Regions from separate parts of the Homo sapiens genome. Here region 1 is linked to region 2. The links come from fine-mapping of genetic effects on gene expression. A gene starts in region 2. The other region holds a variant in brackets. All regions are shown on one strand. Distances are between the middles of the regions. Region 1 overlaps DNAH17 (dynein axonemal heavy chain 17). Region 2 holds the start of DNAH17-AS1 (DNAH17 antisense RNA 1).

The links.
Region 1: its variant is fine-mapped to the expression of DNAH17-AS1 in hippocampus (GTEx, PIP 0.99).

Annotation. Positions count from the first base shown.
Region 1 is chr17:78,556,190-78,561,189 of GRCh38, reverse strand. DNAH17 (dynein axonemal heavy chain 17) reads left to right here. Exons shown (of 81, transcript NM_173628.4): 13 at 255-450; 14 at 2,936-3,082. Among named protein-coding and RNA genes, the nearest start is that of DNAH17, 19 kb to the left of the region's middle. RefSeq lists an enhancer at 2,064-3,263. The variant C/T (reference allele first, on the strand shown) is at 1,893.
Region 2 is chr17:78,482,865-78,487,864 of GRCh38, reverse strand. DNAH17-AS1 (DNAH17 antisense RNA 1) reads right to left here and starts at 2,955. Exons shown (of 6, transcript NR_102401.1): 1 at 2,703-2,955. DNAH17 (dynein axonemal heavy chain 17) reads left to right here. Exons shown (of 81, transcript NM_173628.4): 45 at 1,359-1,641; 46 at 1,732-1,905; 47 at 2,108-2,315; 48 at 2,832-2,997. RefSeq lists a silencer at 2,923-3,152 and enhancers at 3,223-3,272, 3,303-3,442.

The DNA.
Region 1 (5,000 bases), 73 kb before region 2:
GCCTGGCGGTCGGGAGCCAGTTGCTGCGTGGGTTCTATTTTGGCCTCCTGGGCTGGTGGCTGCAGACTGCAGGTCGGAGTTCCATTTGAACATTTGGTCTGGCCACTGCTTGTTTGCATATTCAGTCTGTGAGCCTCGAGTAATTGGGTGGCCGGCCGCTTCGGCACCCCAGATCGGGCAGCAACGATGGGACGTGCCGAAGACACCCCACAGGAGATATCCAGTGGGGCCTCGCCTTCCCGCTCTGATTCCAGGGTCATGTCTGGAGCAGAGGCCAAGCTGACCTATCAGAAGTATGACGAGATGATGGAGCTGCTGAGGTGCCACCGCGAGAAGATCTACCAGCAGTGGGTGGCGGGCGTGGACCAGGACTGCCACTTTAACCTGGGGCAGCCGCTGATTCTGCGGGACGCCGCTAGCAACCTCATCCACGTCAACTTCAGCAAAGCGGTGGGTGCCAGGAGTGGGGACCGCGTCAAAGGCTCCTTGGGAGCGGGGGGAGGGCCTGCCAAGGTTCCCTCAGCACGGATTTATGGAGGTCGATGTTTATATCACAGTTCGCCTAAAGCTTTACTTCTTAAGTGTGTCCAGGGTATATTTAAGACATGAGGGAAAGCAGAAGCAACTTTGACAATAGCTTCAATGAGTATCTTCTTGAAAGCGTTCCTGTGATCCCAAGAAGAAATGACAATTTGAAACTGGGGGGGGGGAAAAAGTCTTTGCCGAATCTAGATAAATGCACTGGCTGGTCAAGGCAGGCACACTGGGGAGAATTCACACTTGTGGGCTCTGGGATGTGGGTTCTATGGCTAAAACCCGGAAAGTTCAGATGAGCAGAGGATGGAACCGAATTCCTACAAGCACAGCCCCAGAGCTGCCCAATCTGCACGTGGCAAGGCAGGGAAACCAGAGATGCGGCTCTTCCTTGGAAATCTTCCCACTCACTAACATTCATTCTTTCGTTCACCAAATACTTACTGAGCACCTACTACATGTATGTGCTTGGGATAAATTAGTGATCCAGACAGTCAGAGAGCTGTCTGTCCTGCCCTCCTAGAGCCTACCTCCAGGCAGGAGGGCGGGGAGGATGATCAGCTAGCATTCACGAGGGAGTCAAGTGTATGATATGGTAGAAGGTGCAACAGGTTCCGCGGAAGGAAGAGCAGGAAGGGCAGGTTAAGAAGATCAATAGAGCCGGTAGAAGGGGCAGGTGCAATTTTAGATGTGAGCAGAGACTTGTGGGAGGTCAGAGTGCCGCTGAGCAGAGATGGAGGGAACAGCTTTGCAGCACGGCATGCGGGTAAAGAAAAGGCCAGGTGGCGCCCGAGAGCCTGGTGCAGTCCAGGAGCAGCAAGGAGGCCAGTGGGGCGGGGGAATGGGCAAAGGGGAAGGTCGTAGGAGAAGAGATGAGAGGTGACGAGGAAGGGCCCCATGGACCACAGAGGGACTTGGAGTTTGGTTTGAGCAAGATGGCAGCCCCTGCAGGGTGTCAGACAGAGGTGTGCTGCGATTAGATTTCTAGTTGTAAAGGACCCTTCTCCACGCTGTGAGGTGCGTAGATTGAACGGAGCTGGGGCTGGAGGAAAGAGCAGGAAAATCAGTTGGGAGCCTGTTGGCACAGTCCAGGCAAGAGATGACAGCTGGGAGGTGGTGGCTGGAACCAGAGTGGCAGCAGTGAAGGTGGTGGTGAGCTTCTGGACTTGAATATAGTGCCATGGAGACTCCTAGTAGGTTGGAAATGGAGCGTGATTGGAAGAGGGGAGTCAGTCCCAATGTTTTAGGGTCAGGTGAGTAGACAGGTAGAATTGCCATTGGCCAAGAGGGCAGGTGGGGCAGAGGCCACAGGGGAGGATGGGCTGCTGTGCTTTAGCCTTGTTGGGTGTGAGATGTCA[C/T]CTGGACATCCAAAGAGAGGAGCTGAGTAGGCGGGTGGATACAGAAGGCTGGAAGTCACGAGAGAGGCTGGGGTTGGAGACATAAACGTGGGAGCCACCCACACAGAGATGGTACTTGTAGCCACAACACTGGACATCTCATTACCTCATTCAGCGGAGATGACAAATGGGCTGGCTGGTCAAGGCAGCTATAACGTTGGATGACATCACACCTCATTCAACTGAGGGTAAATTGAGAAGGAACAAGGTCTGTGGCTCCCCATCATGGACATCTTGAGATTATCAAAAGAGACTAATAATGGTGACCAGGAATGTCTAGTGTCCTGGAAGCCAGGAGGACACTGTGTGCCCAGAAGGAAAGAGTGCCAGCGGCTGGGCGATCCCATGAGATGAGGCCCGTGATGTGACCAGTGGATTCAGCAATATGGAGGTTATCTCAACTTTGAGAATAGCTTTGTGGACAGAAGCACTGTTGGAAGGGATGTCCCTGTTGTTGATCTCGGGTCATAACCGGGTGAAAGCAGAGAGAAAACAGAAGGTTAGATTCCAGCGAGGAAACAAGTGAAGACCCGAAGTCTTACTCCAAACCACTTGTGGGTAGTAGGTAGGAGAGGACAGAGATAAGAAAATTAGGATGATGTCAGCCACCCATGGTGATGATGATATCATCCACCTACAATGATGACATCATCCACCCATAAGGATAATGTCACCCACCCGTGGTGATGACAATGATGTCATACACATGCAATGATGATGTCATCCACCCATGAGGGTGATGTCATCCACCCATGAGGGTGATGTCATCCACCCATGAGGGTGATGTCATCCACCCATGAGGGTGATGTCAGTGCTTTCCGGCTCAGGATCAGCCAACAGGGTGAAAACGTCCTGGTCCTGCCAACAAATACTGCCTCCCACCAACTTTGAGATCCCCCCCGGCTGTCAAAACATCCCAGGGCAGATGCTCATTTCTGTTGCTTGAACACTGCACTGTTGACCTGACCTGCTGACATGTTCTTTGATCTTCGTTTGTCATTTAGTTGGTGGCAGTTCTGAGAGAAGTCAAGTATTTGAATTTCCAGCAACAGAAAGAGATTCCAGACAGTGCGGAGAGTCTGTTCTCAGAGAACGAAACTTTCCGGAAGTTTGTGGGCAACCTGGAGCTCATCGTTGGCTGGTATAATGAGGTGAGTTGGTGAGTCGGTACTATTCCTGATGCAGCTTTGTATTGTTTTGGTTTTTTGTCAAGTTTGTTTGTGTGTTTCAGAGATGTGGCTCTTCCTGGGAAATCTTCCCATTCACTCAAATTCATTCTTCCATTCACTGCATACTTACTGAGTACCTGCTATGTGTATGTGCTTGGGATAAATTCCTGAGCCAGGGAGTCAGAGATCTCTGTCCTGCCGTCCTGTTCTGTTCCACTTGGAGATCTTACACCAGCATTTGTTGTCACCCAACAACTTCTGGTGTAAGATCTCCAAGCAGAACAGAATTAAATTAGTGTGTATTTTAATATTTAGACATGGTTCAAGCCAGTCTTCATTATTCATGCAAATAGCAGCAAAGATAGTGATGACTCAGAACAGCTGGTGATGAATATCTTATTCCCACTGGGCTTTGGCTTACGTTACTTTTTTTTTTTTTTTTTTTTTTTTTTTGAGACAGTCTCACTCTGTCACCCAGGCTGGAGTGCAGTGGCACAATCTAGGCTCACTGTAACCTCTGCCTCCCAAGTTCAAGCGATTCTCCTGGCTCAGCCTCCTGAGTAGCTGGGACTACAGGCGTGTACCACCAAGCCCAGCTGGTGGTAGTAAAAATACAAATAATTTTTGTATTTTTAGTAGAGACACAGTTTCACCACATTGGCCAGGCTGGTCTCGAACTCTTGACCTTAGGTGATTTGCCCGCCTCTGCCTCCCAAAGTGTTGGGATTACAGGCATAAGGCCCCAAGCCTGGCCAATTACATGATTCTTTATAGATCTATTTACCCTCCTGAACAAATTTTGGATAATATTAAAGTCATTCAACATTGCTTCCATTACTTCTGTTAATGTGGGGAGGACTGGATGGGCATTTCCTGGAACCCAGAGTAGGATTATCATGAGGAAGCTGTGTGTGAGGGGCTAGGAGGTGGCGGTCCCTGCTCAGCTCTTTGGTTCAAGAACTCCTTTTTGGCCTTGATTCCTGGCACCATCTGATCTAGGGACCTGACGCAGTAATCAAGAGGTTGACTTTGGAAAAACTTCCCAGTAATTGTTGGAGGTGGGGGGCGGTCCCGTCCAGCAACACAGGGCTTGTTGAGGGCACCTCCTTCCTGGCACGAGGCCCTGGAAGCCGAGTCGGGAACCGGAGGGCAATGGTATCATACGTGTTCTGTTTTCTCTGTCTGCTTTCACTCGGTTAATTATTTTGAGTTAATCTATGTTGTTGCATGTAGCACCATTCTTCTTCTTTTTAAACGTGAGTCAATTTTATTGCTGAGTGGCAATGTGTCGCATGGATATAGCACTATTATCCATTCCTCTGTTGATGGGCATTCGGGTTGTTTTCAGTTTTCGCTTTTACAAATAAAGCTGCTACAAACATCCCTGTACAATCAGGAGGGGCCCGGAGAGCGTGGCTGTGGGGCTCAGCGGGCAGTCACTGTGCTTGTCCTCCTTCTAGACACCATTTCTTATGGATTCCACTCATATACCCTGGGAAAGGCGACCATTTGTACCATACAACTTTGACCCCACCCCAAGCCACAGTACAACAGGGCCAGTCTGGACACTGTTCATTTCCTGTTGCTGCTGTAACAAATCACCACAAACTGAGTGACTTTAAACGGCACGTATTTCCTACCTTCTAGTTCTGGAGGTCAGAAGTCCTGGATCTGTTTCATTCTGCTGGAGTCAAGGCATCCGCTGGGCTGCCTCCTTCTGGAGGCTCAAGGGGATGGTCTGTCTCCTTGTCTTTTCCAGCGTCTAGAGGCTGCACCTTCCTGGGCTCATGGCCATTGTATTAGTTAGAGTTCTCCAGAGAAACAGAACCAATGGGATAGACAGATGGGAGGATGGAGGGATGGATGGATAGATAGATCGGTAGCTAGAGAGATAGGAAAG
Region 2 (5,000 bases):
GGAGCTCCCCCAGAGCACACTCACAGAAGAGTGTGTGTCTGGCCAAGCACAGTGCCTCATGTCTGTAATCGCAGCACTTTGGGAAGCTGAGGCGGGCAGATCATCTAAGGTCAGGAGTTCAAGACCAGCCTGGCCAACGTGGCGAAACCCTGTCTCTACTAAAAATATGAAAATTAGCCAGGTGTGATGGTGCACGCCTGTGATCCCAGCTACTTGGAAGGCCGAAACAGGAGAATTGCTTGAACCCAGGAGGCAGAAGTTGCAGTGAGCCGAGATCGCACCCCTGCACTACAGAGCAAGACTCCATCTCAGAAGAAGAAAAAAAATGAGTCTCTGTCTAAAGAGGCACGTCTGCCGGTCAGCGCAGGGCAGGCTGGCTGTGTGTGTTAACAGGAGCTTCCTGCTTAGGCCCTGGGCATCCTGGAAATGATGCACGTGCTGAGCTCACTGGCACTCGAGGGGGCCAGGCACTAGTGATGCTTTCAGCAGATGCTGATTTGGCAACACTTACCCTGGACCAGGCCCCCTTCTCTGAGCTTTAAAAATATCAGCCCATGTAGTCCTTGGAAATGAGGGTCATGGAAACATCACCCCTGTTTACAGATGAGAAACCAGGGACTCAGGCATGTGCAGTAACCTGCCTAAAGCAGCAGCTGGCCATGGTAGAGCTGACTCAAGCCTGGGCAGTCAGGCCCCAGAGTCCACACCCCTCACCGCCGTGGTGGGCCACCTCCACACGAGCCACCCAGAGATGTCTGTGGCCAACAGTCTGGCACGGCTCTTCAAGGATTGCTGGTTGTATTGATTTGTACTCTTACACTGAACATGGCAAATTCAACTCAAACTAACTGAAGCTTAAAAAAAAAAAAAAAAAAAAAGCACCAAGGGGTGCTTCAGGCATGGCTGGATTCAGGAGTCCAGATGATGTAATGAAATGTCCCTGCTCCTATCCTTGTCTCTCCTTTCTGCTCCCTTACTGTCCCCACCTTCGTGCCCCCCACATGACATCATGAGATCTTTCTCCTTTTCTGTTCTGCCCCATCCACCAGCCCTTGGTATGTGCTTCCCGTGTGGTAGCAAGAATGGCTTCCAACTGTTCTAGACCTACAGCACCCCCATAGCTAGCAACCCCAGAGAGGGCACAGCCCCCACGACCCTGGCATCCTCCTCCGACCCTTTCAGGGCCTGCAACTGGCCCCTCTGGCACCCTCGTTTGGACCCATTGCCATGCAGGCATGGTGACCCTGAGGGCAGCCCCAGCAGAATTGGGTGGAGGTAGGGAGGGGCGTTTACCAAGGCAGGGACACTGGCAGACCCAGAGCAGCGGCTGTGTCATCGGCGCCTCCTGTCACCCCCAGGGTGGTGAGCAGCTGGATCGAGAGGCGCAAGGTGCAGTCGGAGAAGGCCAACCTGATGATCCTCTTTGACAAGTACCTGCCCACGTGCCTGGACAAGTTGCGCTTTGGGTTCAAGAAGATCACGCCAGTGCCGGAGATCACGGTGATCCAAACGATTCTGTACCTGCTGGAGTGCCTGCTCACGGAGAAGACCGTGCCCCCCGACTCCCCCAGGGAGCTGTACGAGCTGTACTTCGTGTTCACCTGCTTCTGGGCCTTCGGTGGCGCCATGTTCCAGGACCAGGTGATGCACCTGGGGGGCCCGGCCACCCACACAGGGTCTCTCAGCATCCTGCTTAGCTGGGCCCTGATTTTTACTTCTGTGTCTCAACAGCTTGTGGATTATCGAGTGGAGTTCAGTAAATGGTGGATCAACGAATTCAAGACTATCAAGTTCCCCTCGCAGGGAACGATTTTTGACTACTACATTGATCCTGACACAAAAAAGTTCCTGCCCTGGACAGATAAAGTGCCCTCCTTTGAGCTGGATCCCGATGTCCCACTGCAGGTAACTGTCCCCAAAGCAGGGCCACCGACTGGTGATTTAGAGGCAGGAATCGGTGCAGTACCCTCCACACGCCTGCACGGAATGTCCAAACACAACCGATTTTCAACATTAGGACCTGTTCGGTAGAACATGGCCTGCACACCCACGAGAGGCAGAAGTGTCTGAGAATCACAGCTCCCTCCCCTTCCCTCCCCTGCCCCAGGCCTCTTTGGTCCACACCACGGAAACCATCCGCATCCGCTACTTCATGGACCTGCTCATGGAGAAGTCCTGGCCGGTGATGCTGGTGGGGAACGCGGGGACGGGCAAGTCGGTGCTGATGGGGGACAAGCTGGAAAGCCTGAACACGGACAACTACCTGGTGCAGGCTGTGCCCTTCAACTTCTACACGACCTCAGCCATGCTGCAGGGTGAGGCTGGTCCGGCCACGCCCTGCCTACCCGGCTGCCCCCCGCCAGTCCCCGTTCCCTCCTGTCCCCTCTCACTGCAGGCCCAGGCACTCACTAGCCACTTTGCACCTCCTCACTTCCCATGCCCCACCCGCTGGCCTTTCCTTCCTGAGTCGGAGACAGAGGAGGAGCAGCCGGGACCCCTCTTTCTGGTGCTCCCTTGTGGGCATGGTGATGGGGTTTTGATGGCCAGTCGAGGCAGCAGGTCCCCCGGGAGTGTCTCAGCCAATCTAAGGCGACCCAAAGGTGACGGAGAGCAAGGTTCCTGCCACCCTCGCCTCTGATCGCTCTGTTTATTCCTGGGGCTGTACCCGGTGCCCCCTCAAGGGCCACTCCCAGGGCAGGTACCTTTGGTAAACTTGGATCCCAGCCAGGTCCCACCTTCTGTCCTCCGGGGAAGCAGGTAGCGCCCCTCCCTACCTAACAGGCTCTGGCTCAGGAGGCGCAGGCGGGCAGCTGACCCTCTGCCCTCTCTAGGGGTGCTGGAGAAGCCGCTGGAGAAGAAATCGGGGAGGAACTACGGGCCGCCAGGCACTAAGAAGCTCGTCTACTTCATCGACGACATGAACATGCCCGAGGTGGACAAGTATGGGACGGTGGCCCCGCACACCCTCATCCGGCAGCACATGGACCACCGGCACTGGTTAGACGGGGCGGGGCCGGAGGGGAAGGCGTGGCCCCGGGGCGGTGAGGGCGGGGCCAGGGCGGGGCGCAGGAAGAGGCGGAGCCCCAGGGCAGTAGGGCAGGACTGGTGTGGGGCGGTGGGGGGGGTGCTGCAACGTGGGTAGGGAGACACGGGTCGTAGCTGGGCCCCCAAGTTTGTGGGGCCACAAGGCATTGAGGTAGGGCCAGGGTAGGGGAGAGGTTCTATCAGTTTCGTCCATCACCCATTTCACAAACATGCAGCAGTGGCCTAGAGCCCCCGCGGAGGGGGGGATCCTCCTTCCCCCCTTCCACCGAGGTGTCTGTCCCGCCGGGAGAGGAAGAAGCACATTACCCGGTAAAGGAAGAGCCCTGAGGAAAACCCCCAGTGCAGTCACAGAGGAGCCTCCCAGCTGGGAGCCCCAGCAGAGAGATGCCCCTGGGGAGATGGTGCACAGCTGGAAGCTGGCAGCAGTGTCCTGCTGGCTGTGGGACCTTAGAGGGAGAGCATTCTGGGTGGAGAGATTGCCACGTGTAAATGCCCTGCCACACGTGAAGAAGCCCAGGAAGGCCGGTGTGGCAAGGATGTGAGAGCCAGAGGCAGAGGGTGCCCAGGGCAGCTGCAGCCAGAATCCCAGGGCCTCGGGACAGAGTGCAGATTTTCTCCTAACGGCACCGAGAAACCAAAGGTGGCACGTTTAGGTTTGCAGTTTGGAAAGATGAGAACATTCAGTTCAGTTGTCTTTTTTTTTTTTTTTTTTTTTTTTTTTTTTGAGGAGAAATCTCGCTCTGTCTCTCAGGCTGGAGTGCAATGGCTCGATCTTGGCTTACTGCAACCTCCGCCTCCTGGGTTCAAGGAATTCTCCTTCCTCAGCCTCCTGAGTAGCTGGTAATACAGGTGCCCACCACCACGCCGGCTAATTTTTGTACTTTTAGTAGAGAAGGGGTTTCGCCATGTTGGCCAGGCTGTTCTCGAACTCCTGACCTCAGGTGATCCGCCCGCCTTGGCCTCACAAAGTGCTGGGATTAGAGGTGTGAGCCACCGTGCCCAGCCATAGTTGTCTCTTAAAATAAGCAAGTAGCTCAGGCCAAAAGAGCCTAGAAACTAGTCTGCTCGTTCATGAAGCCTGGCCTCATGCCGAGAAAGGCAGGCATGGGGGGTTAGGTAGTCTACTTGAGGTCATGGTCCTAATGAGTGGCGGAGCTGGGTTATTATTATTATTATTATTATTATTTCCAAGACAGAGTTTCGCTCTTGCTGCCCAGGCTGGAGTCCAATGGCGTGATCTTGGCTCACTGCAACCTCTGCCTCCTGGGTTCCAGCGATTCTCCTGCCTCAGTCTCCCAAGTAGCTGAAATTATAGGTGCCTGCCACCATGCCCACCTAATTTTTGTATTTTTAGTAGAAACGGGGCTTAACTATATTGGCCAGGCAGGTCTCTAACTCCTGACCTCAGGTGATCTGCCCGCCTCGGGCTCCCAAAGTGCTGGGACTACAGGCGTGAGCCACCACGCTCAGCCAGAACTGGATTTTGAGTTCAGATATGTCTGACTCCATCACTTGCCTTTTCCTCACTAAACGACACTCCCAGAGCTCACGACTATAGGAAGCCTACTCTGGGCTGCAGGCTGTGATGTGGGGACGGAGGCATCAGAGGTGGCTCCCTGGGGGAGGTGACAAAGCTGCCACTCTGAGGAGGGAGCCTGGAGAGAGTTTGACATCATTTGAGGAGAACCTAACGTGGTGTGGGGTGGGAGATTTGAGGGTACCCAGACAGGAGAGGAGGACAGGTGCATGCATGAGAGCCCACCCGTTCCTCTCTGCAGGCAGGTCTACTGTGAGGGCTGTGGCGGCTCAGCCTCGGTTTCCCTGCAACTCGCGAGGCCCCTTCCAAGGGTTGCACACGGTCATGTGCCCTTGTAAAATTTGTTTAAGATTTTTGCTTTCTTTTCCTCAAGGAGGAGCCTCCACATTCTTAAGCTTCAGCCCTAGGTCCACATCTG